Regions from separate parts of the Homo sapiens genome. Here regions 2, 3, 4, 5 and 6 are each reported to be linked to region 1. Evidence: microRNA targets listed by miRTarBase, many of them from high-throughput screens and not tested one by one. Region 1 holds a microRNA gene; each other region holds the end of a gene's coding sequence.

Region 1 (5,436 bases):
CTTTAGAAACAATGTAGCAGAAATATACAGAGAATATTAAATCCTGCATACTCCTTCCTAATGTGTTCATGTGTATTATAAAATATAGGATGTAGTAATCCATGTCTTGCTTTACAGTGTAGAACTCAATGACTTGTTTTTGAGAAAATCAGGATCTTCTTCAGAGCTAATATTTGGGAGGAAAGATATAAACAGGAGTTATGGGCTAGGTGATAAACCATAGATATGAATACACTTCATAGTTTAAAAAGCTTGTTTCATGCAAATACCTCTAGCAAATCCCTGGGGAAAAATCAATATTGAAAATTATCTAGAATAATCATCTTCTCTAAACAAGAGTTCTTAGTTTTTCTCATTGCTATTATTTTTCTTTTTAATTTACTGGGAGGCATTGAAGACTGTATAAATAAGTAAAAACAAACTCACATACCTAGTGAGCCATGGTTTTGTTTGCATGAATTAAAAGGAGAAATGAAATTCCGTCAGAACAAAAGACAGGCTTATTTCTGATACTATCATCACCACCAACAGCAGGTGATACATTCCCCAACCCTTGGCTCTGAGTCAGAGAGCAGCCCAATGTGGACACTGAAGATACTAGTGAAAGGAAACAAAGACCCTTAAACAGTTCCTAGGACTAACCTAAATGTTTTGCAGCCAAGTTAACTATTTTTTTTAATATTATACTACATTACTAGACTTAGCCATAGGGAGAAGTAAAACCAGACTGATTTTGCCCTGTTAGTAATTTTGAGCAGGAGGCTGCGTTGAAAACTAACAGAATGGAGCCTTAGCTTGGAGCAGCAGCATCTGATGGATTTGATCACAGGCTTACTTCAGTTTGGTTCTCCCAGAAACAAGGCTCACTTCTACTTGTGAAGTGCGAGGAGCCATCTAGGAAGGAGGGGATGTGAAAAGGGAAGAAGAGGCTGCCAGTAAAAAGGTTTCTATTAAGCTGGGCATCTCAGAGGAGACTGGAGCTTACACACATGAGGCATTCTAAGAAATGGCACAGAATTGCTCGTCTCATAATTATCTTGCCAACTGCTAAACAATCTTTTTTTTAAAAAAAGAATTGTTATTTAAAGCCTGCTCCTAGAGGCTGTAAACACCCGAGGCATTTTTGGTTTTCCGTATGTGCAGGGTGAGCAGAGTGGCCTTCCTAGGTTTCTGAAAAAGCCCCCAGACACAGAGAAGCAGACAGTGGCATATAGACGTCAGCAGGGGAACACTGAAAGATCTGAATGATATGGGTAGGGTACCAAGAATGTGAGCTACACACCTCTATTCATAACAGAATTTTGAGCTCCAATCAAGGCATGGATATATTCTTATTTATAAATTACATAGAAATAATTTTTCCATGATTATGTATATCATAGTACATACACAAAAAACCTCTTTTAGAGAATGATATAACAGTAATTGAGAACGGAGTTTCTAATACTTTCTTCCTGCAAGCCAGTAGATTGTCCTGTACAGCCCGGGGAGTGTGGGCACCCCCAAAGTGGAAACGAGTGCCCTGGGAAAGGAAAAATTCCATTTCCAAGATCCAGGCATGTGAGAATTACGTGAAATTAAATATGTGGACTTGCGGTTTTTGGTTCTTGGAAAAATAGAAAGGTATAGTGGGTTGCATGCAGTTCTAGCTGCATTCCAGCTAGAAACAGATTGAGACAGTTCAGATTCACAGGCACTTGCAGGGCAAGTTTTCAATGTCACTGTGGCTTTACCACGTAGGCAAATTTGAAAATAGACACACTAAATATTGACTACAGGAAAAGAAAAATGTGTATTTATTCATACAAAACACATTTATTTAGCATCTATAATGTGCTGTGCCCTGACCTATAGTGACCCAAACAGATTAGCAGATCTCACCCGATCTTGTAGTGCAGTGATTTGAATAGCAATGATCTTTGGACCCTAAGCAACCCAGTTTGGCCATTCCCTGATGTCATTTTTTTCCCCCATTTCCATTGTTATTTTTTGAGAACATACAGACGCTTTTTGATCCATTTGTTGTAAGAACCTAGCCTCTTGATCAGTTGCATTTACAAAATAACAACATTGATAATTTCATAAATGTGTAAGATTTACAGCTTACAAAGAACTTGCACACACATCTCATGCATAACTCACAAAACCTCTTAATTCTTTCCCAATAATACAGGGGAATCATGGACTCAGGGGCTGACCTCCAAAGACGCTGTTGGTGGTAAATTGTTAGAGCCCCGAGATGTGACTTAAATTTAGGTTTTCTGACAGAGGTGTGCTGCTCGTCTCTATGCTAATCCATTACACAGCCAGACAGGAAGAACTGTCAGTAGATTCTGATCAATTTCTCTTTCTATAAAAAAAAATGATAAGCTTAGTTAAATTGTATTAGATAAGTGAAGGGTTGTTTATAACAGTCCAGCCTCCCCTTAGCTTCTTCTATGGCTTTCATTAGGCTCCATCAAAGCCTACTCTCAAAACAAAATATAAAAATAATTGTTAACTACTAACATTGATTCTGTGATCTTCCTTTTAAACTCATCTATCTATCTATCGATCTATCTATCCATCCATCCATCCATCCATCCATCCATCCATCCATCCATCTATCCACCTAGCTATCCTTCTATGTTTGCAGTCAGTTGCTAGTTATTAAGATAATCAGAATTGCTTTCAGAATTAATAATTGGTATAAATTTCAGAAGAGTTTGAATTTAGGTGGCAAATTCATAATAAGTGAGAAGGTAAGCTATAGCATCCTCTGATAATGTGTGCAGTTTACTTTTTATCTGTCTCTTTCTAATTGAAAACTAACAAATATAGCCCCAATTAAATGCACGTAAAAATTAGAAGCTGGTGGGATAGGGTATTAAACACAATCCTAGATGACTCTTATGAACTCATACCATAAGCAGCCACTTTCTTTCTCGAGCAAACTATAGTGAGAATGAAGCATCTTAGATTGAGAAGGGATTAGGACGACCCTGAATGGAATGGGCAAATCATAAACAGCTAGGCCCTTAGAATTTGGTTGCAGTCCCAAACCCAGGTCAGTTTTTAAACATGACTATCAGCTAGATATCCTTTCTCCACCATACAATAATAGATAACAACCTTAATAAGACGTGTAGACATTAAACTTTGAAATTCCACAGTAAGATGTAAATATTTGCTCAATCAAGTACAATTTAATATGTTTGTTATACAGCAACTGCAGAGCACAGAATTTTGTACTCTTTGGATGTTTATGATAAGGTACACATTATTTGCAAGTTTTTGCTTGTTTCCTTGTTCAGTTTTTCATTATCAAACAAACAAAGCTTCTCAGCCTGGGATTAACCTGGAGTCTGGAAAGTATACATTATGGCCAGCAACTTTAAACAATAGGCCAGAGATGGGAAATGAATGAATGAAATTCTGACACAGAAGACAAACAACAGAAACTCATTTGGGCTAGTGTAGGTGTAGGTTTTTTATTCTTCAACCAACGGTGGTGAAGAGGATCTCCCTTCACTTTATGGAGGCCTTGCTGGTTTGGAAAGTTCATTGTTCGACACCATGGATCTCCAGGTGGGTCAAGTTTAGAGATGCACCAACCTGGAGGACTCCATGCTGTTGAGCTGTTCACAAGCAGCGGACACTTCCAACTCCATCTTCCCAAGAACTAAATGGGTGTCTTCTATAGTGTATGTGCAAATCTCCTTCAAAAGGAAGTCTTACTCTTCCTGCTTTCAAAAATGGGAACAAAATTCACACCTCAGCATCCAAGTATTTGTTATTTTTGTGGATATTGTTAGAGCTGGTGTCACAATGTAAACTACTAGGATGAAAATAAGTATTAAAAGATTTCTCTTTTAAAAAGCTGATTAGAAATGATAGAAGTATAAGTAAAATATTTGTTTGTGAATTTTAATTATGTACAGAATGAATTTTAGTAACAGGCAAATCTAGCATTTAAGACTGCAATTTTCTAAAATTTAAATTTATTGGATTTCTAAAGTTGGTGTATCAGCATATTATTCTTAAATAATACGCCTTCTGTTTTACAATATTTCTCATTTTTATTTATATCTTTAATTGGCTAAATGTTTTATAATGTTAATTAATAATGCTGAAACAGTCATTCTTGTGATGTTTTAATAACTCTACTAGTGTTTTAACAGTAATATGGCCTTGGGGTTTGGTTTAAAGTAGGTGTTGTACATGATATTAAGGAGATGACCTTTATCAAATGTTTTATTTTTCTTGTATTGGAATTATCATATATATATATTTTCTTATTCAGACTATGTGAAGTGACATGTTATTTGTTTTCCTGATACTAATACATTTCTAAATCCAATGGCTTTAATTGTCATGATATGTTACTCTTTTAATGTACTATTGAATTCCATTTGCTACCATTTTACTAAAGCATTTTGCATCTACATTTGCAAGTGAAACTGAGTTAAAAGTTTGTTTTTTTAATTTTTGAGTTATCTTTGGCTGAAATTTATTTCATAATCACTTGATTATATAAAACCAATTGGTAGCTTCCCCTTCATCCTTATACTGTTGAAAATTTTACATAGAACGATGATCAATTCTCTAAATGTTTGAATGGCCCTTCCTGGAAAACTTCTGGTAAAAAGCTCAAATCATTTTTTACAACAGTTTTAAAAATTATTATAACATTTTTCTAAGTCACTTGCCTATTCACATTTTCTATATCTCTACTCATTAATTTTGTTAAATTATAGATGGCTACCATTATCTATTTAAGAAAAATGCTTGTAGTATTTATCAAATAATTGTGCATATGATTCTGTTAAAATAATTATTCTCCAAATTTATCTTTCCTTTCTTTTTCCCAATATTAAATGTTTTTCTCATGCTTTTTTGCCAGAGTTTTGTGGCTTTTGATTTTTATAATTTATTACTTATCTTACTTTTGTAGTTACTTCTTTTTAATTCTGTAGAGGTTTTTGTTTCCCTTTTTAAAATAATTTCTTGAGTTTAAAGCTTAGTTTCTTCTGCATTATAAAATTTTGATACTTCTTCTTTAATATTGGGAACATTTATAGCTATGAATTTGTTTCTGACAACTGCTTTAGTCTCATCTAAATGTTTAAAATATAGCCTGGTTAACATTAAGGGAGCACAGGCTTGCTGCTTTTCAGTCTTTTGGCTAAGACCAGGTGAAAAAGAGCACGGGTTTAGAATCAAGGAGCTTAGGTTTGAATTCTGACAGTTTCACACATGTTGTGAGAGGGACTTTAACTCACTACACTTCTGTATTTGTAATTTAGAGTGAGTATATTTACATTATAGTGCTTTGTAAGATTAAATGAGATATGTTTATAAGTGTACAGTACTGTGATGATAGCAAAATCAAATGTTCAACACAAATATTAATATTGGTTGAAAATTATAGTTTGGGTTGTTCTTTTTTGTATAATA
Region 2 (5,428 bases), not on the chromosome of region 1:
AGTTGTTTTCAAATCAGGTGAAAACTCCAGATTCATGCAGCTCAATGCACCCCAAGCACAAGAAACATGAAGAAAACTATGTCAAGGCACATAGTAATCAATTGCTCAAAACCAGCTAGAGAAAAATGACACATTATGTGTAAGATTTCCTTATGGGAAATAATCAAGAGAACAATGGACCAACTATTTTTATGAATTGAAAGAAAAGAACCTCATCAATTTAGAATTCTATACCTAGAATTTATTTAAATATATATTTCAAAATATTCTTCAAAATATATTTCAAAATGCTGAAAGAGACTTTTTTAGATATACAAAAGCTAAAAGATTTCATCACCTGCAAAGCTGCCCTATGGGAAATACCACAGGAAGTCTTTCAAGCAGAATAATAATACCAGATAGATAAATGGATCTAACACAAAGGAATGAGGAGCTCCAGAAATGGTAACTATGGGGGTAAATAGTAAGATTTTTTTTCCTATTTTTTCTTAAGTATTATATATAATTTTCTATTATTTAAGAATCTGCCTAACAAAAACAAGGTAGTGTGGGGCTTATAACATATATAAATGTAAGATGTATGCCAAAACAGCACAGCCAGTCTCATCTGAGGATGAGAGGGAAGGTAAAATATATCGTCAGAAACTAAAACTGCACTATTGACAATATTAGGAGTTTTACAAAAATTATAAGAAATACTATGTACAACTCTATAGCAATATATTCAGAAAAAGGGAATGGTTGATTTTCTTGAAAAGTATAAATTATCCAAATTGTTTCCTGAGAAAGTAGCAAACCTGAAAAGATAACTCTAAAGGAAATTGATAAAGCAATCAAAGAGCTATTTCCAAAGCAAACCCAGATAGTTGTATAAATGAGTTCAACACATCTTGCAGAAACGGCTAATTCCTTTATTATTCAAATTTGGGGGGGGGCATAGAAGATGATAAGCTTGCCAATTTATTTTATAAGGCTAGCAGAACCATACTCCTAAACCAAACTAAGATAATACAATTAAAAAACAAAATCAGGCTGGTACAGTGACTCATGCCTGTAATCCCAGCACTTTGGGAGGCCGAGTCAGGCAGATCACCTGAGGTTGGGAGTTCAAGACCAGCATGGCCAACATGGGGAAAACCCGTCTCTATTACAAATACAAAAATTAGCCAGGCGTGGTGGTGGGTGCCTGTAATTCCAGCTACTCGGGAGGCTGAGGTGAGAGAATCACTGGAACCCAGGAGGCGGAGGTAGCAGTGAGCTGAGATTGTGCCACTCTACTCCAGCCTGGGTGACAGAGTGAGGCTCTGCCATAAATAAATTAAAATAAAATAAAAACAAAGTCACACATTATTCATGAATACAGATCCAAAACTTTTTGAAGTTTGACAAAATGAACAAATAGAATTCTAGAATACATGTACTGTGACATGTAATTCTCAGGATGCAATGTTTTAGGTTTAGAGAGCCTATTCAAAGTTTTATGTGTTGAATCCTCCTTTTCCTTATTCAATTAACAGACGTTCTTCCTTTCATCAAAAAGTTTCACTGTTAAATATATGCCAGGCACTGGATCCTGGGAATGCAGTGATGAATAAGATAAGGTCTGTCTTCATAGAGCTGTCTACAGAGACAGACAAGTAAAAAGAAAATTATAATACAGTCTAAAGGCTATGATAAAAGAAAAAGATATTTGGGGAATACATAACTTGGCACTGAATCTGGATTTCAGAGCTCTGGAAAGGCTTTCTAGAGGAAGTAATGCATAGATTGAGCAGTGAAGGGCAGTTACTATGAGAACTAAAGTGGGGAAGTCATCAGAGGAGACTGAAGTAGCACATGCCAAATAGGGGTCATATTAAGTTGAGAATTTTGTACTTAAGTCAGAGGCCACTGAAGCTTTATTCAGGCGAGTGACAGATTTACATCTTCAATTCTTAAGAGTGTGGAATAAATTTGAGGAAAGAAGACTGGAAGCAGGAAAACATTAGGGTGTTCTTGGAATAATCCTCTTGAGAAAATTGCCTACTCTAAGATGGTAGCAGTAGGTATGGGGAAAGTGGGCACACACAACATAATTAGAAAGTGGTATAAAAATTTTATTTTAGATGGGGAAAGGTAGAAAATACTAGGTTAAGTATAAAGGGATTTCTTTACCTATAGTACTTGTCAGAAATTTTATGGTGCTGTTTTTGAGTAAAAGAAAGTCACACAGTAACACAAAATGGCTTCCAAACATTTGATTTTTTTTTTCTTTTTTTTAGAAGACTTTATGAGACACTAGCATTCCACAGGAAACACTATGGGAGAAACTGTTCTCCCACAAAAATAATCTCTTCTTCCTTTCTGTTCTTGCAGCTGTCAATATAGATGAAGCATCCCAAATCTGAAATCTGAAATGCTCCAAAATATGAAACTTTTTGAGTGCCAATACAGATGTGACACTCAGGGGAAAGGCTCATTGGAGCACTGTGGATTTCCGGACCTGGGATGCTCAACTGGCAAGCATTAATGCAAATATTCCAGAACCCAAAACACTTCTCAAGCATTTTGAATAAGGGATGCTCAAACCTGTACTTCTGAGTTGTCTCACCAACTATATTCAATTTTTTAAGGCTGTCTTGTCCTGTCCCTTTACACAATACATGTATTTAGTTTGGTTACTTTCAGCTCACTGAAAGTGAAGTGAAAAAGAAGATTCACCAGAACTTCACAAGCTTCCCTCAAAAAGCCATTGAAAAAGATTATTCTGAGTCAGGGTCATCTGTTAACCAATATAAAAGGATCCGACCCACAGATAACGTTGTAATAAAGCAGTATTAGGCCAGGCGCGGTGGCTCACACCTGTAATTCCAGCACCTCGGTAGGCCAAGGTAGGTGGATCACTTGAGGTCAGGAGTTTGAGACCAGCCTGGCCAATGTGGTGAAACCCCATCTCTACTAAAAATACAAAAACTAGCCAGGCGTGGTGGTGGGTGCCTGTAATCCCAGCTACTCGGGAGGCTAAGGCAGGAGAATCACTTGAACCCGGGATATGGAGGTTGCAGTGACCTGAGATCCCGCCATTGCACTCTAGCCTGGGTGTCGTAGCAAGACTCTGTCTCAAAAAAAAAACAAAAACAAACATGCAGTATTAATCTTCGTTAACATCTACAAACCTACTAAGTTTTCATATGGATAAGATACCCAAAAATAATAATCTCATTGGAAACAAATTCTGTGAAAATGCTTAAGCAAACAAATTGTTTATCTTAATTCTATAGTGAGTAGTTGAATAGCTACATTTACTTAGAAACAGAAAAACTGAATTCATTTATAAACAGGAAATCTAAGTGTACTTTAACTCCTAGAGACCACTGAGGGTAACTAAAGTACTCCAAGCTATAATCGAGGGGTCACTGAAAATCTGATTGTGAAACATCATGCTCTATATGTACAAAAGATGTATTTCAGGATGCTCAAAATTAAAGAACTGATATTCTAAACAGCAGGCAATCAGTGAATAAAAGTATGTTAATTCTTTGTGTACAATGTCTCTGAAGTCAGTGACATAAAAAAAAAAAAATAACACACACCCTTCCTTTTATATTTTCAGTATATTAAAAAGGAACAGTACAAATGCTGTGGTATTAAAAAGGATCCTTATTTTTCAACAAATGAACTTTTATAAACAATTCTGTAATGAAATGAAAACAGTATCTTAATACAAGCTTTTGTTAAACAAGATTTTAAAATTTTAAAATTAGAAAACGTTAAGATTAAACTCTTTCAAAGGTTCAAACAAAAAAACAACCTGTACAATCTCCATTACATGTGTCTTTGTACACAGTCTGGGCACTTTGAAAATGTTAAAGTTTTTAACGTTTGACTGACAGAAGCAGCACTTAAAGGCTTCATGAATCTATTTTCCAAAAAAGTATGCTTTCAGTAAAACATTTTACCATTTTATCTAACTATGCACTGACATTTTTGTTCTTCCTGAAAAGGGGATTTATGCTAACACTGTATTTTTAATGTAAAAATATACGTGTAGAGATATTTTAACTTCCTGAGTGACTTATACCTCAAATGGGATTTAATGAACAATTTCTAAATTTTAGAATGAAACAGTATGTGTAAATCTACACATGTATGTTCAACTAGGGTAAAGCTCAAGAGCATGTCACAGAATTTATACCTAAATTATATAAGAAGTTAAGCAATGCCTTTATCCCCAAACTTTACCAATAAGCCTTCTCAAATAGAATGTTAGTAAAGTGAATCACTGAAAAGTTTCATTTTTGAATTAACTAAAATACCAGTAGCCATTTTAGACTGTCAACCTGGATGTTTTCTTGATTCACTAGCAAGAAATTTCTTGCAATACAAAAAGATAACAAATAATTAAAATATCTGCTTTATCATACAACTTCACCCCCTCCTAAAGTGTCTAAAATGATTAGGAATTGTAGCACTTTCTTTTGCATAAAACCCTTTCCTCTTCATAAAACCCTGAGGTGAAAGGTTATTAATGTAATAAAACCGCAATTCATTTTGTATTAAACTGTAGCTTTAAAAAAATTTATAAAGAAATGTGACAACTTGTAAAGCTGCTCTGTACAGTTTTTCAACAAAATATTTCCATATCAACTTAGTCAAAGGGCCTAAAATGACCCTATAAAAACAATGTCCTTTTAACATGTGTTAGTGTCGAGATGAGCGCCATTTTCCATCTCTACTACTGTCTCTTCTGTTATCATAGTCATGGCTCCAGTCATCATGATTCCTGTCTTCATAGAAGAAATCATCTCTCTTTCCTCTGTAATGATGGTCAGACCCATGATCAGTGTAACGCTGTTCCCGGCTATAATGTCTATCTGCTAGGTAGGGATAAGAATTCATTCTGACTTTACGCTGTGATGATGGTGTACCTTGGCGCCACTGGGAGCTTGAAGACTGATTGAAACTATGACTGTGTGATTGAACTGATGGTGAAAATCCTGATTGATCCAGAGGTGAAGAACCAAATTTTCCACCATATGACATTTGTCTCAAAGCACTGTTCATCTGAGGAATAGGAAAAGTGGAAATGTTAATACTTCTAGATATCAAAGCTAATATGTATTTGGTCAGTTAACAGAAAATGAAAGAAAATAAAGTCACTCTTGCCTAGATGGATCCACAACTAAAGCAGTACAATAGCTTCAATCATTCCAATGTATACCTACAAGATACATATATATACATAAATACTACTCTTTGTCCTCAAGAATGCAACTCAGAATAAGTCACACAAAATGACTATAATGCAAAATCACTGTGTAAAAAACAAAGAATCAGGAGATCAGTATCATTAGGAAAGGTTTCATGAAGGTGGCATATGATCTGGGTATTAAAACAATGGATGGAATATTTTCATATTTTAAGGGAGAGATATGCCAAGAAAAGGAAA
Region 3 (5,436 bases), not on the chromosome of region 1:
GTGGAGTAGGATTACCCTGAGCTCTGCAGTCCCTCAGCCGCCAACCTCGTTTGCTGGGGCAACCAAAAGTGCCACCACGGTGTCCCCAGTCCTCTCTAGAGAACAGTACTGTCCATTAAGAATCAGAATCTAGGGTCACCTTCTCATGCTGCATATGGGAAACTGAGGATCACAGCGGTTGAGGGACTAGCCTGGACCTTGTGTACATGGCAGAGTCGGGGCTGTGGCTCCTGCCAGCCGAGGTCCTCTGCTGGGCTGACCCAGCTCCTTCCCATGCAGCGTTTCAGTGTGCAGGATGTCATCTACGTGCGGGGCTGCACCAACGCCGTGATCATCTGGTTCATGGACAACTACACCATCATGGCGGGCATCCTCCTGGGCATCCTGCTTCCCCAGGTGGGCAGGCCGTGGGTTCAGAGAAAGTGTGACTTGGTGATTGCAGAAGGGCAGAGAAGGTGCAGAGGGGAAGAGCGAAGAGGCTTTTTTCATAGAAGTCCAGGACTTGCCTGGGGAGGGCTGCATGGCTGGAAGGAGGGGCAAATGGCAATAGCAGTCGTGGCGAAGCTCTTCCAAGTGCTGCGCAGGCACTGCTGCTTCACTTCTTTTTGTGAGGGAGGCACTATTATAATGCCTATTTCACAGAGGAGGAAACTGAGGAGCAGCAAGCTTCAGTGACTTGCCAAGATCCCCTAGATAGTGTGCAGCAGAGCTGGGGTGGAGGCAGGAATCCCAGAAGGGAGGGGCCCTTGCTGATGGGGCACAGCGAGGCGCTCTGGGATTTCCTGGGAAGGGGAGAGGGGGCCCAGGTGGGAGCTTCTTGGGCAGTGTGGGTGCTGGGAGAAGTCTCTGCTGTGGGTGTTGCCCAGGTCACACAGGACCATGAGGGCTTGGGACTGGCTGCTTGGGTTTCTGGGAGCCGGGAGCTGCAGGGAGGGCTGCCCTGATTCCCAGCAGGCCCTCACCAGCCCTGCCCCTTCTTCTCAGTTCCTGGGGGTGCTGCTGACGCTGCTGTACATCACCCGGGTGGAGGACATCATCATGGAGCACTCTGTCACTGATGGGCTCCTGGGGCCCGGTGCCAAGCCCAGCGTGGAGGCGGCAGGCACGGGATGCTGCTTGTGCTACCCCAATTAGGGCCCAGCCTGCCATGGCAGCTCCAACAAGGACCGTCTGGGATAGCACCTCTCAGTCAACATCGTGGGGCTGGACAGGGCTGCGGCCCCTCTGCCCACACTCAGTACTGACCAAAGCCAGGGCTGTGTGTGCCTGTGTGTAGGTCCCACGGCCTCTGCCTCCCCAGGGAGCAGAGCCTGGGCCTCCCCTAAGAGGCTTTCCCCGAGGCAGCTCTGGAATCTGTGCCCACCTGGGGCCTGGGGAACAAGGCCCTCCTTTCTCCAGGCCTGGGCTACGGGGGAGGGAGAGCCTGAGGCTCTGCTCAGGGCCCATTTCATCTCTGGCAGTGCCTTGGCGGTGGTATTCAAGGCAGTTTTGTAGCACCTGTAATTGGGGAGAGGGAGTGTGCCCCTCGGGGCAGGAGGGAAGGGCATCTGGGGAAGGGCAGGAGGGAAGAGCTGTCCATGCAGCCACGCCCATGGCCAGGTTGGCCTCTTCTCAGCCTCCCAGGTGCCTTGAGCCCTCTTGCAAGGGCGGCTGCTTCCTTGAGCCTAGTTTTTTTACGTGATTTTTGTAACATTCATTTTTTTGTACAGATAACAGGAGTTTCTGACTAATCAAAGCTGGTATTTCCCCGCATGTCTTATTCTTGCCCTTCCCCCAACCAGTTTGTTAATCAAACAATAAAAACATGTTTTTTTTTTTTTTTTTTTTTTGCCTTTCCTGTGTGCTGTTTTGTTGGGGCGGGGGTAAGGAAGGCTGCAACCTGGATTTGGAAACCCCTTGTGGATGCGAGGATGAAGGGGGTGCATGGGGTGAAGATTTGGCATAGCTTGGGATACAGGTGGGGGGTTGGGGGGAAAGCCTCAGGGCCAGAGGTGACCACGCCTATTTTACCGAGAACCGAGGGAAACAGCCTGGGCCAGGTACAGCATGAGGCTCCACCTCCAGGAAATGGGGTGGATGGGGTGGGGGACCAGGGAAGCGGAGTTGCCCACAGGTCCACCTACCGCGCTCCCTGCAGCCCTCAGTGTGCCTAATGGCTGCCGCGCAACGCATGCAGAGCGTGGTGTCGGTCGACCCCTGCTGGAGATGCCGGGACTTGCGTGCGTCAGTCCACTCAAACCTTCGGGCCAGAAGACATGGGATCTAGATTTTTTGTGAGGCTCTTAGTAGCCAGGGCAATAGAAATAAAGTAGCAAGAGGCCGGGCATGGTGGCTCACGCCTGTAACCCCAACACTTTGGGAGGCTGAGGTGGGCCATCACGAGGTCAGGTGTTCGAGACCAGCCTGACCAACATAGTGAAACCCCATCTCTACTAAAAATACAAAAATTAGCCGGGCATGGTGGTGCGCGCCTGTAGTTCCAGCTACTCAGGAGGCTGAGGCAGGAGAATCGCTTGAACCCGGGAGGCGGAGGTTGTGGTGAGCCGAGATCACACCACTGTACTCCAGCCTGGGCAACAGAGTGAGACTCCATCTCAAAAAAAAAAAAAAAAAAAAAAAAAAAAAAGAAGAAGAAATAAAGCAGCAAGAGCCCCAAACCTGAAGGATTCTAACGGTGGGAACCATCTACACACCCAGTAGTTAAGTGGTCAGATGCTTGGTCTGCCATGGGTGCCAAACGCATGTGTAAGAAGGGGCAGGAGGAGGGTATTTTAAAGTATGCAATAACACAACAATAACAAACACACCATAGAGCATACTTTGCCAGGAACGATATTAACTCCTTTAATCCTCACGACTAGGGTAATTCTTATCTTCATTTTATTAGTGGGGAAACTGAGGCACAGGGCAGTTAAGTAACTTGCCCAGGCAGGCAGCTGGTAAGTGACAAAGCCATGACTTGAGCCCAGATAGGATCTCTTGAGCCACTCAGCCCCTCTGCTTTACTGTCTCTGTTGCCTCCTGTGCACACATGGTACTAGGCATGCAAAACCAGTGGAGGCTGCAGCTGCTTCTGAAGCTCTGTCCTGGGGATATTCACTGTAGCCGCTGCTGCAGCCTCTGTCTTGTCCCACTTTGACCTAATGGACACAAGGCCAGGTCAAGCTCTGTGTCTGGCTGGAGGCCTTGTAGTCCTGGGGCTCTGGCTGTTCTGAGAACCCCTTTTGTGCCCAGAGGGGAGACGGCAGCTGCCTTTAGGGGCAGCAGGATGGCAGAGGCCCCGTAGGAGACAGGCTGGTCTGAATCGCTTATCCAAGGTCACCTTACCTGGACCCTGGAACCCGGACCCCTTGTCTTCCCTCTTTCCAGCACCACTCACAGACACCCCTCTACCTCACACTGCACCGCTGGCCAGCTGCTTATGTGGACCAGCGCTGGTGCCACAGATGGCTAAGCTCCAGCAGACACTCATCTCCTCTTTTCCAAACCTTGGTCACTCACCTCTAAAGAAATGGAAGCATAAATATCTTATTTTTTTTGAGAAGTGTGTGTTCATATCCTTCGCCCACTTTTTGATGGGGTTGTTTGATTTTTTTTTTTTGTAAATTTGTTTAAGTTCCTTTAAATTCTGGATATTAGCTCTTTGTAAGATGGATAGATTGCAAAAATTTTCTTCCATTCTGTAGGTTGCCTGTTCACTCTGATGGTAGTTTCTTTTGCTGTGCAGAAGCTCTTTAGTTTAATCAGATCCCATTTGTCAATTTTGGCTTTTGTTGCCATTGCTTTTGGTGTTTTAGTCATGAAGTCCTTGCCCATGCCTATGTCCTGAATGGTATTGCCTAGGTTTTCTTCTAGGGTTTTTATGGTTTTAGGTCTTATGTTTAAATCTTTAATCCATCTTGAGTTAATTTTTGTATAAGGTGTAAGGAAGGGGTCCAGTTTCAGTTTTCTGTATATGGCTAGCCAGTTTTCACTACACCATTTATTAAATATTAAATAGGGAATCCTTTCCCCATTGCAGGTTTGTCAAAGATCAGATATTGTAGATGTGTGGTGTTATTTCTGAGGCCTCTGTTCTGTTCTATTGGTCTATATATCTGTTTTGGTACCAGTACCATGCTGTTTTGGTTACTGTGGCCTTATACTATAGTTTGAAGTCAGGAAGTGTGATGCCTCCAGCTTTGCTCTTTTTGCTTAGGATTGTCTTGGCTATACGGGCTCTTTTTTGGTTCCACATGAAATTTAAAGTAGTTATTTCTAATTATGTGAAGAAAGTCAATGGTAGCTTGATGGGGATAGCGTTGAATCTATAAATTACTTTGGGCCATATGGCCATTTTCACGATATTGATTCTTCCTAACCATGAGCAAGGAATGTTTTTCCATTTGTTTGTGTCTTCTCTTATTTCCTTGAGCACTAGTTTGTAGTTCTCCTTGAAGAGGTCTTTGACATCCCTTGTAAGTTGTATTCCTAGGTATTTTATTCTCTTTATAGCAATTGTGAATGGGAGTTCACTCATGAATTGGTTCTCTGTCTGTTATTGGTTTATAGGAATGCTTGTGATTTTTGCACATTGATTTTGTATCCTGAGACTTTGCTGAAGTTGCTTATCGGCTTAAGGAAATTTTGGGCTGAGACGATGGAGTTTTCTAAATGTACAATCATGTCATCTGCAAACAGAGACAATTTGACTTCCTGTCTTCCTATTTGAATACCCTTTATTTCTTTCTCTTGCCTGATTGCCCTGGCCAGAACTTCTAACCCTATGTTGAATAGGAGTGGTGAGAGAGGGCATCCTTGTCTTGTGCTGGTTTTCAAAGGGAGTGCTTCCAGCATTTGCCCATTCAGTATGATATTGGCTGTGGGTTTGTCATAAATAGCTCTTATTATTTTGAGATATGTTCCATCAATACCTAGTTTATTGAGAGTTTTTAGCATGAAGGGGTGTTGAATTTTATTGAAGGCTTTTTCTGCATCTATTGAGATAATCATGTGGTTTTTGTCATTGGTTCTGTTTATGTGATGGATTACGTTTATTGATTTTCGTATGTTGAACCAGCCTTGCATCCCAGTGATGAGCTGACTTGATCGTGGTAGATAAGCTTTTTGATGTGCTGCTGGATTTGGTTTGCCAGTATTTTATTGAGGATTTTTGCATCGTTGTTCATCAGGGATATTGGCCTGAAATTTTCTTTTTTTTGTTGTGTCTCTGCCAGGTTTTGGTATCAGGATGATGCTGGCCTCATAAAATCAGTTAGAGAAGAGTCCCTCTTTTTCTGTTGTTTGGAATAGTTTCAGAAGGAATGGTACCAGTTCCTCTTTATACCTCTGGTAGAATTTGGCTGTGAATCTGTCTGGTCCTGGCCTTTTTTTGGTTAGTAGGCTATTAATTACTGCCTCAATTTCAGAACTTGTTATTGGTCTATTCAGGGATTT
Region 4 (5,436 bases), not on the chromosome of region 1:
CGGGGTTTCACCATGTTGGCCAGGCTGGTGTTGAATTTTTGACCTCAAGTGATCCGCTGGCCTCGGCCTCCCAAAGTGCTGGGATTACAGGCGTGAGCCACCACACCTGTCCTGTATAGTTGTTTTAAGAGTACAGATTGTAGTTAGAACTCTATCACCTATAGACTATAAGATCTTGTACAAGTTATTTGGCTTTTATGGGTCTCAATTCTCTCATTTAAAATGGTGATAATATTACATACTTTACATGGATTTGGGGAGGATTAAATATGGCAATGTATAAAAATGTGTGTTTGCCATTTTAAGCTATAAACTTAAAAGGAAAATGAAGTCAGAATGACAGATAATACCTTACCCAGTTGAAGTAAGTAGTTTCTAAGGAGGTAGAAACTCATCTTTAATGTTTATATACCAAGGAATTTATATAGGACTTTTGATATTTAAGCAAAGTTGTATTTTTAGACTGCTTAAAGGAAACCTAAGATGAATTCCAGTGCCAGTCTGTGAAAACCTTTTTCTTGGACTATCAGGTGCCTAACTTTTAGTAATATACAAGGAGAATGCAGTAATGAATTTTCCCCAACAACTAATAAATATCTTTTCATGAATCTTTACTAATCAGATAGCTTCTATTTTTAATGTTTCTGCAGACTGTAGTCAGCTTTTAAGCTTCTGTTTTCAATGTCTCTGCAGACTGTAGTCAGCTTTTAACCTCTGGACCAGCTACATTGCCTGATCAGTTGATGGCCATAAGTCAGCCAGGCCAACCACAAAACGAGGGCCAGCCACCTGTGACAACACTTCTTTCTCAGCAAATGCCAGAGAATTCTCCACTGGCATCCTCTATAAACACCAACCAGAACATCGAAAAGATTGATTTGCTTGTTTCATTGCAAAACCAAGGGAACAACTTGACTGGCTCCTTTTAACTGGATATGTAAGTATTGCATTTTGGCTTCTTATTGAAAAGCATCAGATTTTATTCTTCTTAACAGATTTAGGTTAAGTAATAGTAGTTCTAATCTTTTAAAATGTGGCTTTCTCACAAGATGATACTTTTTTACTCTGAATAAAATTATTCTGAATGATAGCTTATGGTCATATAGTTAATACAGACCAGGCCGGGCGTGGTGGCTCATGCCTGTAATCCCAGCACTTTGAGAGACCAAGGTGGGCGGATCACGAGGTCAGGCGATCGAGACCATCCTGGCTAACATGGTGAAACCCCGTCTCTACTAAAAAATACAAAAAAAAAAAAAAATACAGACCAAACATCCCTAGTCCAAAAATCCAAAATCCAAAATGCTCTGAAATCCGAATCTTTTTGAGTGCTGACATGACATCTCAAGTGGAAAATTCCACACCTAACCTCATATGATAGGGTCATAGTCAAAAGTCAGGCTCACAACATGCAGTTTATTTGGTGTCCCCAAGGGTAAAAAAGATCCTTCCAGCTCCCTTCAGCTGTGATAGATTTTTTTAGGTGTATGTGAAACAGAAGTGAATTTCATGTTTGGACTTGTGTCTTATCCCCAAGATATCTCATTGTGTATATGTGCATATTCCAAAATCCAAAAAAGAAATCAGAAACACTTCTGATCCCAAACATTTTAGATAAGGGATACTCAACCTATATTGGACATTCCTTCTGCCTCTGAGCTTCTTTGCCTTGGAATAACAAAACATCTGATGAGTATGCAAAATGTGTTTCCTTTGTACTATATATTGGATATAACCATGCCTCACTTATCCCTTCCTCCAGAAATAAATATTGAGTCAGAAAAGTCTGTGGAAGATCAAATATGATAAAGTTTTACTTACAGTACCATAATATACTTTAGGATCATTCAGGGTGTCAGAAACTTTATAAATGCTTCCCTCCCTAGTAAGTTAAATTAAACTTTTTCTCTTTTTTAGAAATTCCACGAAGAAAATCCTGATTCCAAGATGTCCTGAGATCTTGTGGTTCCATGAGAATTATTACTTTAAAAACAAAACAAAATATAAAAAACTGTGTTTGAGTAAACTGATAGATTTTACTCTGACTGCAAAAGAGCACACCTATGCTGCTTGTTGCAGTAACTAACCACCAATGTTAACATCTTCATATTTTATATTCCTAATAACAGTGATGACTGAGAATCTATTTGAGTTTCCAGCTGGCAGAATTAATTGTTATTATTTTCCTAGGCGCAATTTCCTTAAACGTACAGTTTAAATTCAAGGCTGGACCACTCAGTTATTATTGCTATTAGAAAATAATATATCATGTTTACTTTTGTTCTTCATTATTTTCTTTCCTGCATTGTTTTAGTCAAGTAATGGCTTTTGAAAAAGTAAAGTTCAATAATAACTAAGGCTGTGATTTTTTTCAATATAAAAGGCACAGCTGTTGGCCAAAGTGAAGGAATCTTTTTTCAGTTTTATTGGAGAAACTGAAGGGTAACATTCTAACAAGTAAACTGTATGTGCAGATAAAAGTACTCTTGATTTAACACAAAGGCAGATGATACACTTATAAAACTGGGAACAGCTGGAATGCTTCTTGATTTTATTTTTTCAGAGAGTTGTTAGTTCTCTGGGTTTCTACTAAGGGGTTTAGCCATAACTGTGCATAGAAAAATAATTATCTGTAAAAAATGAAGGGGATAATATATGATAAATTATGTTCTGATATCCTCCTACAGTAGTTTAAATTGACAGAAAAATTTGAATGTTTTCTTCTTAACCCAGTCTTAGGCTGGTATTCCCTTTTTATATATATCTATATTACTTTTCACCTCTTTTTCACTTTACTTTAGAGAACTATTAATATACTACTGGCTTCATGACCCTGTAGCATCTTTGGCCACTTTAATCTAGGGTGACCTAGCAATCCTGCAGCACAGGGCAGAGAGTACTGTCTTAGGAATTATTAGGAGTTGATTCCTGAGAAACAACACATTTTTCCCCATGAACGGTGCTGTTCTGAAGTCTTCAAATTTTTCCCTCTAATAGGAAACAGTATAAATTTTAATTAAAAAAAAAAGGCAAACTAAAATTTCTTGAAATATCACTTCTCCCTGATCTGCAGTGAGTATAAATTCACTTGTCACCTCAGTGCTTTACAGTTTGAAGTGGTCACTTACCTGATGGTTCCCACAAGCCTTAGGCTTTACAGGGTTGTATCATTGACTTAAAATGAAGAATTAACTTGTGTTACATCTATAAAGAGCAAAATAACACACTCCAGAACTTGGCAGTTGTAGCATTAGTTATACAGTTTTGGGTGTTCTTGCCACCCGTGGGATGCCTGCTTCTCACTACCACCTGTGTCTGGACACATGCTTATGTCTCATTTTCCTTTTGGCATGTGGAAAGCTGTCAATGCAGTGTAAGGCCAACGTGTGTGTGGCTTCTATGTGTTGAGATAATGTTTTGGTATCCTTGTCCGTTTCATTTATTTTTTAAGTGTACAAAAAATAACCTGTTAATTGTTGAAGGCTACTTTTCTGTTCTTTTTTTTTTTTTTTTTCTATCCTGTACATTTAGTTGAACTGTGCGGAATTGTGGTGTTGGTTTTGTTTACACAGCCAGATTTTTCCTTCTTTTTGTTTTGTGATGATCTTCCTTTGTTCTTTGAATGTGCTCTTTTGTCTTTTTCTCTTTTTTCTCATGTTTTCTTCCCTCCACCTCCACCCCTTTCTTTCTTTCTCTCTCTGATTGAGAGGCATTGAATTACGTTTTCAGTAGTACAGGCTTCTTGCCGATATGAAGGGAACTTTTCAGAAAGAGACCTACTCTGGGTCATTTAATTTTGAATACAGTTTTCAATCGTTCAAGTTTTGGATGGTTTATATCTAATGTGTGTTTCATTTTTTTGGAAAGCTATATTTTGTATTTAGGAAATGGTATACTATTTTGCTATTTGTACTGAGTGAGTACATTGGCATAAATATAGAAATTTATATATATACATATATATAAACTATTCTTTTTTGCCACACATTTTTGTGGTAAATTTGTGAGTTTGTCTGATGTTCTACCACAACGTGGCGTCTGATAACAGTGAGGGGGGGTGGGGTTTGTTATGTCTTTATTGAGTATTTAAGTATCTTTTGAAACAAATGACCTGTTCATCTGTGGCCATTCCATCAGGCAGTTAGTTCCTTGATGTCAGTAGTGGGCTAAAGGCAGCTTACTGTGTGTTTGCTGGAGCTTTCACTCAGCCAAGTGTTAGAGTCAGGAAACCCATTGAGGCAATGGCGTCAAATGGTGTTTCACAAGAATGAGCCATTCAGTCTTTGCTCACTATATATTTAATATTTTATTATTGTTGTTATTGTTATTATTAATTGGCTTTCTGTATTCTATGCCTTTTATTTATAAAGACACTAAGAAAACCCATGTTTGTAATTTTAATAACATTTTTCCCATCTTGTAATATCCAGAGCTACTTTATAAATTCTCTGAACCAAAAGTATTTTCCTCAGTGTATCTCTTCTCCCCCAGCCCCTATTGGGAAAAATTACCCAGTATAGTTCAGGTTATGAGGAGGATCAGCCACACAATCCAGTGCTTCAGTTTGAAAATGTAAAATTCTAACCCTAAAGTAGGGTTGGTTGAAATTTCAGACAAAGCAAACCCAGCAGGTATAAAAAGTAGTATAAATACAAATCTGTAAGTTATTTTTGAATTTTCTGAACTTTTTTCTAAGAGATTACATAGGAGACTAAAGAAATCTATCTGTTCAAGTTCTAATTAGGATGATTGTTAATACTGCACTGTGGATGAAGTGGCGACTGGCTTGTGTGCTGACTTCTGTGGTTTAGCAAGAGGTTTATTGTTATCAAATGCTAATTGGCAATGCCAAGTCACTGGGACCAATTTTCTGTTTTATAATATCTAAGTTTAGAACAGAATATATACCTGAACTGTAGTGGTTTGATCGGATGGAGACAGAAAACCCGATTTTTATTCTCATAAATTTTGTGGTTATTTATACAAGGGCTGTGCTATGCTACCATATTCTTGTTCAATAATAATAGGTTTGTTGTTTTTTTTACATTGTTAAATGTTCCTTACCCCTAAAGGTCAATGTTAAGTACAACATTCTGAAAATACAATTTGGCTACGAAGAGTATTCATCTTCTTTGAAGCTCAGTGGTTGATATTTGTGCTAATAATGCAATTTCCTGATTACTGTTACAAGTTATAGCTACATATGGGAGAGACTCAGTGAGCCAGCAAAGGCCATAGAAACAACAATTTATTAAATGTATTTATGGCAGAAGGACCTAAATAAACTGTGAGCCACCTTTTCTTCTTTATATTGTTACATTTAAGTGTTCTTGCTTTCAGCAACTCACATTAATGCTTGGAGCTTATCTCTTTCTCTCTCTCTCTCTCTCTCTCTGTGTGTGTGTGTGTATGTGTGTGTGTGTGTGTGTGTGTTTC
Region 5 (5,436 bases), not on the chromosome of region 1:
GGCTGGACTGCAGTGCTGCGATCTCAGCTCACTGCAAGCTCCGCCTCCCAGGTTCATGCCGTTCTCCTGCCTCAGCCTTCTGAGTAGCTGGGACTACAGGCACCTGCCGCCACGCCTGGCTAATGTTTTGTATTTTTAGTAGAGATAGGGTTTCACATAGCCAGGATGGTCTGGATCTCCTGACCTTGTGATCCACCCGCCTCAGCCTACCCGTAATGATGTGTTTTTAATGGTTTGGTTTTGTTTTTTGGGTTTTTTTTTTTTTGAGACAGAGTCTCGCTGTGTTGCCCAGGCTGGAGTGCAGTGGCACAATCTTGGCTCACTGCAACCTCCGCCTTCCAGGTTCAAGCAATTCTCCTGCCTTAGCCTCCCAAGTAGCTGGGATTACAGGTGCCCGCCACCATACCCGGCTAATTTTTTGTATTTTTAGTAGAGATGGGGTTGGCCGGCTGGTTTCAAACTCCTACCTCAGGTGATCCACCTGCCTTGGCCTCCCAAAGTGTTGGGATTACAGGCGTGAGCCACTGCGCCTGGCCTTTAATGTATTTTGAAAGAAAGCGCCTTATAAATTTATGCCAGAGTGACAATGAAACTGTAGCCATTTGAATGTTACACAAACCCAGGACTGGCTACATGAGTTTGAGGAGGAGGTGTTTCCCTGCCTCTCTCTTTGCGCTGTGGGTGACCACTGCCTGTCTGCTGTCATTACATGAACCCTTAAGCACTCTGGGTGTTTCATATAGAAATAATCCTACTTTTCAATAGTATTGAAAGGTGTCATTTATCTTTTTGGACTGTTGATCAACTTCTTTTGATACTTGTTTAATAAATTACATCCAACTTGTTCCTTCCTTCTTAAATCATATTTATATATGCATCTCTTTCAAAAGCTTCAGCGCCTGCTCCTGGTCATCACTAACCAGATTTACTTGGAGTACATGTGAAAGAAAACGTCAGTCTGCCTGTAAATTTCAGCAAGCCGTGTTAGATGGGGAGCGTGGAACGTCACTGTACACTTGTATAAGTACCGTTTACTTCATGGCATGAATAAATGGATCTGTGAGATGCACTGCTACCTGGTACTGCTTTCAGTGTGTTCCCCCTCAGCCCCTCCGGCGTGTCAGGCATACTCTGAGTAGATAATTTGTCATGCAGCGCATGCAATCAGAATCTCACTGAGCCACCCATCATTGTGAAATAATTACCTCAGTTGTACAGGACTTGGTGATCAGGATCCAGGCACTCACTTGTATTCTACTGCTCAATAAACGTTTATTAAACTTGATCCTGCTACTTATCTTGTGGCCTCTCTGAGCCTCTTGTTTTCTTATTTGGAAAATGGAGATGTTAATTATGTAAGCTCTAACTTACAGTTATTATGAGGATAAATAAGAGAAAGATTTAAACTATGAAGTCCTTTAGAAATAAGGTAGCATTCAATGACATAGTAGTTGAAATTATAAGCTGTAGGAGAATATTGCATCAGGAAATAATCACAAGGCAAAGTACATAATAAGCCAATTGAAAAAAAAAGCCAATTGATTCTAGTTAGGCTAGTATCAAATGCATACTGCATAATATTTGTCTCCATCTAAGACAATTACCAAGATCCCTAAATTGTGCGCTAAAAAGATTCTAAAGCAGCAAGCATGGGGGTAAAAGTGAGTCCAGTTTGAAATCTGGCACTCTGCAGGTGGGTAGGAGAGCAGCTGTGGAATGGGGGTGGTGGCTGCACCCTGGGTGTCCTGTCCTCTTGAGACCATCCTGTTTATCATCTGTGTCTCTGGCATTTAGCCTCATTAGGTCTGGCCCATGGTAGATGTCCAACAGATGACGGAGATCTCTCTGAGCCTCAGTTTCTTTTGTAAGACAACCAAAACCTGTCATGGCTTCCTCCAACAGCCTCAGGGTTGTTGGGCTGTGTGAGAAGTTTGCAGGAAAGCATTACACAGCATCAGTGGAAGTCAGCGTCAGGTCGTGTGAGATTCAGAGGGTTTGGTTCTGACACAGGAATCACATTTTTCCTGCGAACGTATTTTGTTCTCTTCTGCCTCCAGAAGATGAATCTGCTGTGGTACAGAAAGGCCCTACCTTTAAAATTATCCATCTGCCCAGCTGCTCAGGCTTGAGAGTGCATTAGAATCACCTGGAAGGCCCTAACAGCCAGCTGGGCCCCAGTGTTCTGATTGCACTGCTGTAGGAAGGAGCCCAAGAACTTGTATGTCTAACAAGCATCCAGGACATGCGGATGCCAGGACCCCAGCTGGAAAATTTCTAATGATACAAAGAACCCAGGCCTGCCCTATCACAGCCTTCACATCCACTGCACTGGCACCAGGCTCCAGCCCTGTGTCACGCATCTTAGTGCATTTAGTCCACCTTAGAACCTAGTGAGGCATCAGTACAGGCCCTGACTTTCAGAACAGGAAACAGGCTGAGAGGCAGTAACACGCTACAGATGTCGCAGTTAGCAAGCACTGGGGCTAGGACTTGAACCCCCAGAACCTGAACTCTCCTCCAAAGGGAGGTGAGGACGGATGGGAGCTGCCCTCCCCACCCCCACCCCCCACCTCACCCCCGGAAGCAGAGATTGATGTGTCTGACCCAGGAGGGCTTCCCCACAAAGGCTGGGCCATTCCTCTTCTCCCTTTACTACTTAAGGCTTCCTTTGGCAAATTACCAGGGTAGGTTGGGCCCAGTGGCTCACGCCTGCACTTTGGGAGGCTGAGGCGGGCAGATCGCTTGAACCCAGGAGTTTGAGATCAGCCTGGGCAACATGGCGAAACCCCATCTCTACAAAAAATAACAAAAATTATCCAGGCGTAGCGGTGTGCGCCTGTAATCCCAGCTACTGGGGAGGCTGATGCTTGAGGATTGTTTGAGCTTAGGTCGAGACTGCAGTGAGCCAAGATCACACCACTGCATTCCAGCATGGGCGACAGAACGAGACCCTGTCTCAAAAAGAAAACAAAAAATAATTGCATTTGCTATCCCAGAACTCACTCACACACTGAATCCCTCGGGGTTTTGGAAACAACCAGGTCTTGTCCCGAAGGCAGCCTGTAGGTGGAGCTAGAGAATGTCACCTGGGCTTCCCCGTGGGCGAGGAGCACGGGGCCAGGAGGATCTGTTGAAAGGAGCATTTGGAGGGCGGTGCCAATGGGCAAGAGGTATGCACAGAGAGCCACGGGAGTGGGCAGGGCCAGTTCAGGAAGGAATCCCAGAGGCTTTTTGTCCCAAAGCCTACGCATTCGTGCTGCTCTGACTTAATGCAGTGCTCAGCTGTGCTGCAGAGTAACGACAAAGGCTGGGAGGAGAGGAAGTGGCTCACAGGCAGCTGAAGGTGTCATTTTAAACAACGTGCTCTAAGTTAGCCTCAGATGAGACTCTAGGAGAAGGCATGGTGTTTCTTCTTGATTGTCACTGTATCCCAGGGGTACACGCACCCCAACCAGAGGCTTTGGAGGGTGTGCTTCCTGCCACCCTCAAGGGAGTTGTCTCTGTCAAGCTAACGGATCCCGAGTTCCGGGGTGCCAGGCCGTAGTCTGCTTCATTTTTATCTGCACAATAACCCGTGAGCCCATACCATCACCCCATTTCACAGCTGAAGAAATGGATGCCCAGACAGGATAAGTAGTTTGTACTAGAGGATAACTACCTGGCTAACAAACCAACTAGTTAACTGGTTGGCCAGGATTCAAAATCTGACCCGCTTCAGAATCGGGACTCGGACCACAGCGTGGCTTCAGAGAGCTCCTTCACCTGTGCTGGGCGTGCGTTGCCGTCGGGGATGCGGCGGTGGTTAGCACACGTTCTCTTCACTCCCTGAACACAGAGGCTAGAGAACAGACCTGCAGACACACAGTGCCAGTGCTTGGCAGACACAATCCTGGACGTCTGTGCTGTTAGGAACCGTCTGACGGGCGCCAGCATCAGGCCTCGCTGCACACGGGCCTTGGAGCAAGCACAGCACCTGCTCAACAGCCAGCTCTGAGCACGGACCCTGCTTCCACCCTTCAGACAAACCAGCCACCAAGAGGCATTTCTGGTACGTACAGAGAAATGTGAACGTGGACTGGGTGTTAAGTGATGTTGAAGTGTTAATCTTATTAGGTGATCACCACCACAATAGTGGTATTGTAGTTATTAAAGAAAATTTCTTTGGTTTTAGAAATGGAGGTGCAGGCCGGGCACAGTGGATCATCTGAGGTCAGGGGTTCAAGACCAGCCTGGCCAACATGGTGAAACCGTGTCTCTACTAAAAATACAAAAACTAGCCAGGCGTGGTGGCACGCACCTGTAATCACAGCTACTTGGGAGGCTGAGGCATAAGAATTGCTTGAACCCAGGAGGCGGAGGTTGCAGTGAGCCGAGATCGTGCCATTGCACTCCAGCCTGGGCGACAGAGACTCTGTCTCAAAAAGAAAAAAGAAAGAAATGCAGGCGCAATTATGTAGGTGTGAAATGATACCTAGGATGTACTTTAAGATACACCAGCAAATACTAGCCAGTCAAAACAGATTGGGGGGACGGAGTCTCTAGATGGGATGAGATCGGTAATTGTGTAGAGGGTAGGGGGTGGACGTCTAGAAGTGCATTACAGAATTCACTCTGCATACATTTTAACTTTTCCCAATAAAAAGTTTTTAAAAATACTTTAAAAAAAAAGCCATGTGATGGAAGCCTGTGTTAGTATTATAATACCTGTTTGAGAAGCTGGCACTGTGCAGCCCCAGGAAATGAAGGTAACGACTCTGCGGGCGGCTCTGTCAGACAGTGACTGTCTCATCACCACTCTTCACAACAACCGCTCCCCTGATGTCTCTTACTACAAAGGAAGTCTCAGCTTTTTCACTTGTTTTCCCTCTTAAAGAATGATGTAATATAGGCCAGAGTTAATGAACACCTAAGTCTAGAGGGAAAATGTCAGAAAACTCTCATTTAGTTAGGAATAAAAACTTATTTTTTAAACCAGGCACAGTGGCTTATGCCTGTAATTCCAGCACTTTGGGAGGCCTAGGCCGGAGGATTGCTTGAGGCCAGGAGTTTGAGACCAGCCTGGGCAACATGGCAGAACCCTGTCTCTACAAGTAAATTTTAAAATTAGCTGGCTGTGACAGCTCACGCCTGTAATCCAAGCTACTCAGGAGGCTGAGGTGGGAGGATCGTTTGAGCCTGGGTAACCAAGGCTGCAGTGAGCTAGGGTTGTGCATTCCAGGTGGCAGAGTGAGACCTTGCCCCTCCCCCCCAAAAAAACCTTACTTTTTAAACTAAATTTACAACTCCAGACTGAATTTTTTATGGTTATAAAAACATTTTTAAAACTACAACTCAGGACTGAAATGTTCATGGTTATAAATGTTTCCATGCTGTCTTCCTGATCTGCTTTTTTTTCTTTTTTTTCTTTTTTTTTTTTTTTGAGATGGAGTCTTGCTC
Region 6 (5,436 bases), not on the chromosome of region 1:
TTCCCAAAATCCAAAACCAAATCCTTAAAATGCCCAACACCCCCTTACATTTGCTATTCCCAAACTGTGCACCAAGGCACTCCAAGGCAGCATTCACAGGGACTCTACAGGGTACTTTCCATGTTCTAGGTCATAGAGCAATATCAGTCATATTACTACTATAAAATTGTTAGAACCCAACCACTTGTAAATCCAAATCATTAGTTAGTTTCTTTGATGTAGGGGCATTGTAAAAAATTACTGAGACACTAAGGGCACTGTGGGCCTAGAAAATTGGGGGACCCCTACCCTACACAATCATCTGTCTGATCTTATCTCCTGAAACTGCCCCTCTGTTTGCTCCATTCTCTGCCCCAGCCAACCCAGCCTCCCTGTGTTCCTCACCCCACCTGGTACACTACTGCCTCAGGCTCTTTGCAATGACTGGTTCCTCTGTCTTAAAATGTCCTTACCTCAGATGCCCTTGGCTGCCTTCTACACTTTCTTTCAGATGTGTTCAAACGTCACTTCCTCACGAGATATTCCATCACTGCCTGTATTAGTGTGGGCTGCCATAACAAAACACCACAGAGTGGGTGGCTTAACATCACACATTTATTTTCTCTGTTCTGGAGGCTGAAAGTCCAAGACTGAGGCTCCAGTCAATTCCATCTCTTGTGAGGGCTCTCTTCTCAGCTTGTGGACGGCAGCCTCCTTGCTGTGTCCTCACACAGACTTTCCTCAGTGCATGCGTGTGGGAAGAAAGTGAGAGGGAGAACTCTGGTGTCTGTCCTCATAAGAACACTAATCCTGTTGAATCAGTGCCCATCCTCACGAACCCATTTCATCTTAGTTACTTCCTTAGAGGCCCCATCTCCAAATACAGCCACATTAGAGTGAGGTCTTGAACATACAAATTTGGGGGAGACACCCACATTCAGTTCATAACACTACCATTTCTGAAATTGCAATCCCAATCTCCCCAACACTCCTTCACCCCCTTACCTTGCTCTCTTCCCCCCACAGTTCACCTTTCTCGTACTCTCCAATGAATTCATATTATGAATTCTATTGTTTATTATCTGTCACCCTCTCCCCCATCTAGAATAAAACTCAATGATTAAGGGTAGGAGTCTTTGTCTACTTGTTCTTTATGTGTCCCAGGCATCTAGGTTAGTGCCTTGTACACAGTTGGTACTCAAGATTAGCTGTTGAATGAATGAAGGAGAAAAAACATCTCCTTCCTGGCCCCTTTTCCCTTTTCATTCTCTTTGCACATCACCAGGGAAGGAAAAGAAACACACCTCAATAATCAATTAGTTTGAGGAGAGCTGGTAGTCTTCATTCCATTTAGAAACCAGATCTGGTATTCAATAATTAAAAATAATTAATAATTAATAAGCAGCCCAAATTTCCACCAACGGATGAGTAGGTAAACACCAGATTAAAAGACTTCCAAGCAGTCCATGATTCTAGCATACTCATCTATGACTGCTGGATATGAGATGTGATTTGATTAAAGAGACAGGCCAGGCACGGTGACTCACGCCTGTGAATCCCAGCACTTTGGGAGGCCGAGGCAGGCGGATCACGAGGTCAAGAGATTGAGACCATCCTGGCCAAAGTGGTGAAACCCCGTCTCTACTAAAAATATAAAAATTAGCTGGGTGTAGTGGTGCACGCCTGTAGTCCCAGCTACTCGGGAGGCTGAGGCAGAAGAATCGCTTGAACCAGGCAGGCGGAGGTTGCAGTGAGCCGACGTCATGCCACCGCACTCCAGCCTGGGTGACAGAGCGAGACTCTGTCTCAAAATAAAAAGGCAACACGATAAATGAAGTGCATTTATTAGGATAATCAACAGTTACCAGGTCCGGTTCTAAACGGAATGAAAACTACCAGCTCTCCTGAAACTAACTGTACCCTCGTTAAGTCTCTTAGTGTGTGGAACTGTTTCTTCATCTGAAAATTGAAAACAACAAGACATGCAAGGTACAGCATGAGGTAATGTGCTCAGGGTGCTTTCAACAGCTAGACTTGTATACTAGTTCCAGCTGCGCAGCTCTCTAGCTAGGTGACTTTGAACAAGCAGTCCAACCTTCTGAGCTCCCATTTTCTTTCCTGTAATAGTTGGATAAAATCACCTCGTAGTGGCAAGAATCAAGAGACTTCTCAAAAGTTAAACATAGAGGCCAGGCGCAGTGGCTCACAGCTGTAATTCTAAGCACTTTGGGAGGCCGAGGCAGGTGGATCACTTGAGGTCTGGAGTTTGAAACCTGCCTGGCCAACATGGTGAAACTCTGTCTCTTCCATCTCTACTAAAAATACAAAAAAAAAAAAAAAAAATAGCCAGGTGTGGTGGTGGACACCTGTAGTCCTAGCTACTCGGGAGGCTGAGGCAGGAGAATCACATGAACCTGGGAGGTAGAGGTTACAGTGTGCTGAGATCGCACCACTGCACTCCAGCCTGGGCAACAGAGCAAGACTCCATCTCAAAAAAAAAAAAAAGATAAACACAAAAATTACCATATGGTCGAACAATCCTGCTCCTAGGTATATATCCAAAATCATTGAAAACAGATACACAAACACTTATACATGAATGTTCACAGCGGCAATGCTCACAACAGCCAAAAGGTGGAAACAGCCCAAATGTCTATCAACAGATCAGTAAACAAAATTGCAGTGGATACATATAATGGAATATTATGCCACAAAAAGAAAGAAAGTACTGATACATGATGCAATGGGGAAGAACATGGAAAACATAAAGCTAGGTAGAAGCAGCCAGATACAAAAGGTCACATACTGATTCCATTTATACAAAATACCCAGAACAGGCCAGGTGCAATGGCTCACGCCTGTAATACCAGCACTTTGGGAAGACAAGGCAGGAGGACTGCTTGAGTCCAGGAGTTTGAGACCAGCCCGGGCAACATAGCAAGACCTGTCTCTACAAAAAACTTTAAAAAATATCTGGGTGTGGCAGCACGTGCCTGTAGTCTCAGCTCCTCGAGAGGCCAAGGTGGGAAGATTGCTTGAGCCCAGGAAATCGAGGCTGCAGTGAGCCATGTTCATGCCACTGTACTTCAGCCTGGGTAAGAGCAAGACTGTCTCAAAAAAATAGTAATACCCAGAATTAATTCACAGAAACAAAATGAAGATTGGTGGTTGCAGGGGTTAGGGAGCAGGAATGGGGAGGAACTGCTTAAAGAGCTCTGGTTTTTCTTTTGGGGTGATGGAAATGTTTGGGAACTAGACAGAGGTGGTGATTATGCACTACTGTAAATGTGCTAAATGCCACTGAACTGCTCACCTACTTAACTTTTAATACTTAAAATTAGCCTTAAAATGGCTAATTTTGGCCGGGTGCAGTGGTTCACACCTGTAATCCCAGCACTTTGGGAGGCCGAGGTGGGCAGATCACAAGGTCAGGAGATCAAGACCATCCTGGCTAACACGGTGAAACCCCGTCTCTACTAAAAATACAAAAAAACTTAGCCGGGTGTGGTGGTGGGCGCCTGTAGTCCCAGCTACTCGGGAGGCTGAGGCAGGAGAATGGTGTGAACCCAGGAGGCGGAGCTTGCAGTGAACCGAGATGGCGCCACTGCACTCCAGCCTGGGCGACAGGGTAAGACTCTGTCTCAAAAAAAAAAAAAAAAAATTATGTGAATTTCACCTCACTAAAAAAAGAAAGAAAATACGTGGTAAAGGCCTTTAAAAACAGCAACTGTCTGGTGACTAGAGATCTGGGCTTAGCTCTGCCAGTTACTGGCAACAAGGTAATGTCTCTCTGGGCCTCAGTTTCCTCATCTGTAAAATGATCGGGTTGGATTAAACCACTACTAGTTCTCAACCAGGACAGCCTACATTGGCCATATGTGGAGAGCTGCTTCTAAATGCACAGGGCCATCCCATCACCCCCAGATTTTGACATGTCCAAGGCAGAATCAGGCCTGTGTTCTTGTGTTGAAATATTTATTTCAGGATTTAAATCCACCCCCTTCTGAGAACATCAGATTAAAAGACCTCCAGCAATCCATGATTCTAGTATACTCATCTCTGACTGCTGTATATAAGATGTGATTTGATTAAAGAAGACAGACAACAAGTGCATTTATTAGGAACAACATTCTGAATACTCACGAGTAGTTATCTTGCACACTTAACCCTAGGCCAGAGGACACGGGGCAACCACACAGGAAAAGGATACCAGGACAGAGTCCATGTAGTTTTGCTTATACCACAAAAGGAGTTAAGGCAGTTTAATTCAAGGATGCGAAAACTACGTCTATGACATAAACATGACATTCAAAAATAACTCAGCCTTTAAAATGTCCCCAATACCAACAAATCAACAAAGTAGTCAAGATGACAGCCACTGTCAAGGACAGATGAACAGTCACAAAAGCGATCCAACATGACACCGCTATAGCAGGTGCTATGCAGAGCCCTCCCTATGCAGTTAACACAGATCAACGGATGCTATTTGCAGGCCACCAGTCTCGCATGTCTTTACTTCACATAAATGTATTACACTGTCCTAGGAGAGCAAATGCATATTATGTGAGAGAAAAATAGGACTCATTATCTCGTACCACAAACAGGGGTTACAGAAAACACAAGGCTGGACAAGGCCACACTGAGACAGGTTAGTGACTTTTCTGGCAGGCCCCTCATAGGCACTGAGATGAGGCCTAAAAATATGCTGGGGTGAGTTCCGTCCTTCCTTCTGTGGTTACCACCTGGATTAGGCTTCCTGAGCTCGGTCGGTTTTTCCCTGTGATCCAGTCATGGAAAGTTCTGGAACAGAAAATAAAAGTTTTTTTTATATTCTCAAAGCAAAAATCTGGGCACATGCTGACCTTCACAGTGACGGCTTGTGGGGTGGGGGGAAGGGGTGGCACAGCAGCGACTGTTTAAAAGCCACTAAGGGCTGGGCGCCATGGCTCACACCTGTGATCCCAGCACTTTGGGAGGCCGAGGCGGGCAGATCGCTTGAGGTCAGGAGTTCGAGACCAGCCTGGCCAATATGATGAAACCCCATCTCTACTAAAAATACAAAAATTGGCCGTGGTAGCACGTGCCTGTAATCCTAGCTACTCAGGAGGCTGAGGAAGTAGAATCACTTGCACCCGGGAAGCAGAGGTAAGCCGAGGTTGCACCATTGCACTCCAGCCTGGGCATCACAATGAGACTCCGTCTCACAAAAAATAATAAATAAATAAATAAATAAAAGCCACTAAAGGTCAGGCATTATGGCTCACCCCTATGATCCCAGCACTTTGAGATGCCAAGGCGGGCGGATCGCTTGAGCCCAGGTGTTTGAGGCCAGCCTGGACACAATGGCAAGATTCCATCTCCAAAAAATAATAAAAAATTAATAAAAGCCAGTAGGCATGATGGACACATACCCAGGCCCCCAGTGAGTTCAGTGGTGTACTCATTCTAATCTCTGAG

Evidence for each region. The annotated mature microRNA hsa-miR-490-3p reads CAACCUGGAGGACUCCAUGCUG and lies in region 1 at 3,591-3,612, shown strand. An mRNA with a match to its seed (bases 2 to 7 or 8) in the 3' UTR can be bound and repressed. Matches are read on the target gene's strand: a 7mer-m8 pairs with bases 2 to 8, a 7mer-A1 pairs with bases 2 to 7 and ends in A, and an 8mer does both.
Region 2: the mRNA of RBM7 is a reported target of hsa-miR-490-3p. Seed matches in the 3' UTR shown: 7mer-m8 at 4,317-4,323.
Region 3: the mRNA of TSPAN15 is a reported target of hsa-miR-490-3p. Seed matches in the 3' UTR shown: 7mer-m8 at 1,596-1,602.
Region 4: miRTarBase lists NFAT5 as a target of hsa-miR-490-3p. Seed matches in the 3' UTR shown: 7mer-A1 at 4,523-4,529.
Region 5: the mRNA of ATP5MJ is a reported target of hsa-miR-490-3p. The part of its 3' UTR that is shown has no 7-base or 8-base seed match.
Region 6: the mRNA of QDPR is a reported target of hsa-miR-490-3p. The part of its 3' UTR that is shown has no 7-base or 8-base seed match.

Annotation. Positions count from the first base shown.
Region 1 is chr7:136,899,652-136,905,087 of GRCh38, forward strand. MIR490 (microRNA 490) reads left to right here and starts at 3,516; the gene lies at 3,516-3,643. The region is part of intron 2 of CHRM2 (cholinergic receptor muscarinic 2); the gene reads left to right. It overlaps LOC349160 (a long non-coding RNA gene), which reads right to left. Exons shown (of 4, transcript NR_046103.1): 3 at 2,199-2,350; 4 at 1-166.
Region 2 is chr11:114,407,060-114,412,487 of GRCh38, reverse strand. It overlaps RBM7 (RNA binding motif protein 7), which reads right to left. Exons shown (of 5, transcript NM_001286045.2): 5 at 1,881-5,043. The coding sequence ends at 4,681. Among named protein-coding and RNA genes, the nearest start is that of RBM7, 9.1 kb to the right of the region's middle.
Region 3 is chr10:69,505,845-69,511,280 of GRCh38, forward strand. TSPAN15 (tetraspanin 15) reads left to right here. Exons shown (of 8, transcript NM_012339.5): 7 at 280-396; 8 at 985-1,822. The coding sequence ends at 1,134. Among named protein-coding and RNA genes, the nearest start is that of TSPAN15, 57 kb to the left of the region's middle.
Region 4 is chr16:69,694,443-69,699,878 of GRCh38, forward strand. It overlaps NFAT5 (nuclear factor of activated T cells 5), which reads left to right. Exons shown (of 15, transcript NM_138713.4): 14 at 694-937; 15 at 1,918-5,436. The coding sequence ends at 929. Among named protein-coding and RNA genes, the nearest start is that of SNORD13H, 12 kb to the right of the region's middle.
Region 5 is chr14:103,908,149-103,913,584 of GRCh38, reverse strand. It overlaps ATP5MJ (ATP synthase membrane subunit j), which reads left to right. Exons shown (of 4, transcript NM_004894.3): 4 at 891-1,297. The coding sequence ends at 919. Among named protein-coding and RNA genes, the nearest start is that of ATP5MJ, 11 kb to the left of the region's middle. RefSeq lists an enhancer at 2,299-2,799.
Region 6 is chr4:17,482,458-17,487,893 of GRCh38, forward strand. QDPR (quinoid dihydropteridine reductase) reads right to left here. Exons shown (of 7, transcript NM_000320.3): 7 at 3,938-4,779. The coding sequence ends at 4,674. Among named protein-coding and RNA genes, the nearest start is that of QDPR, 27 kb to the right of the region's middle.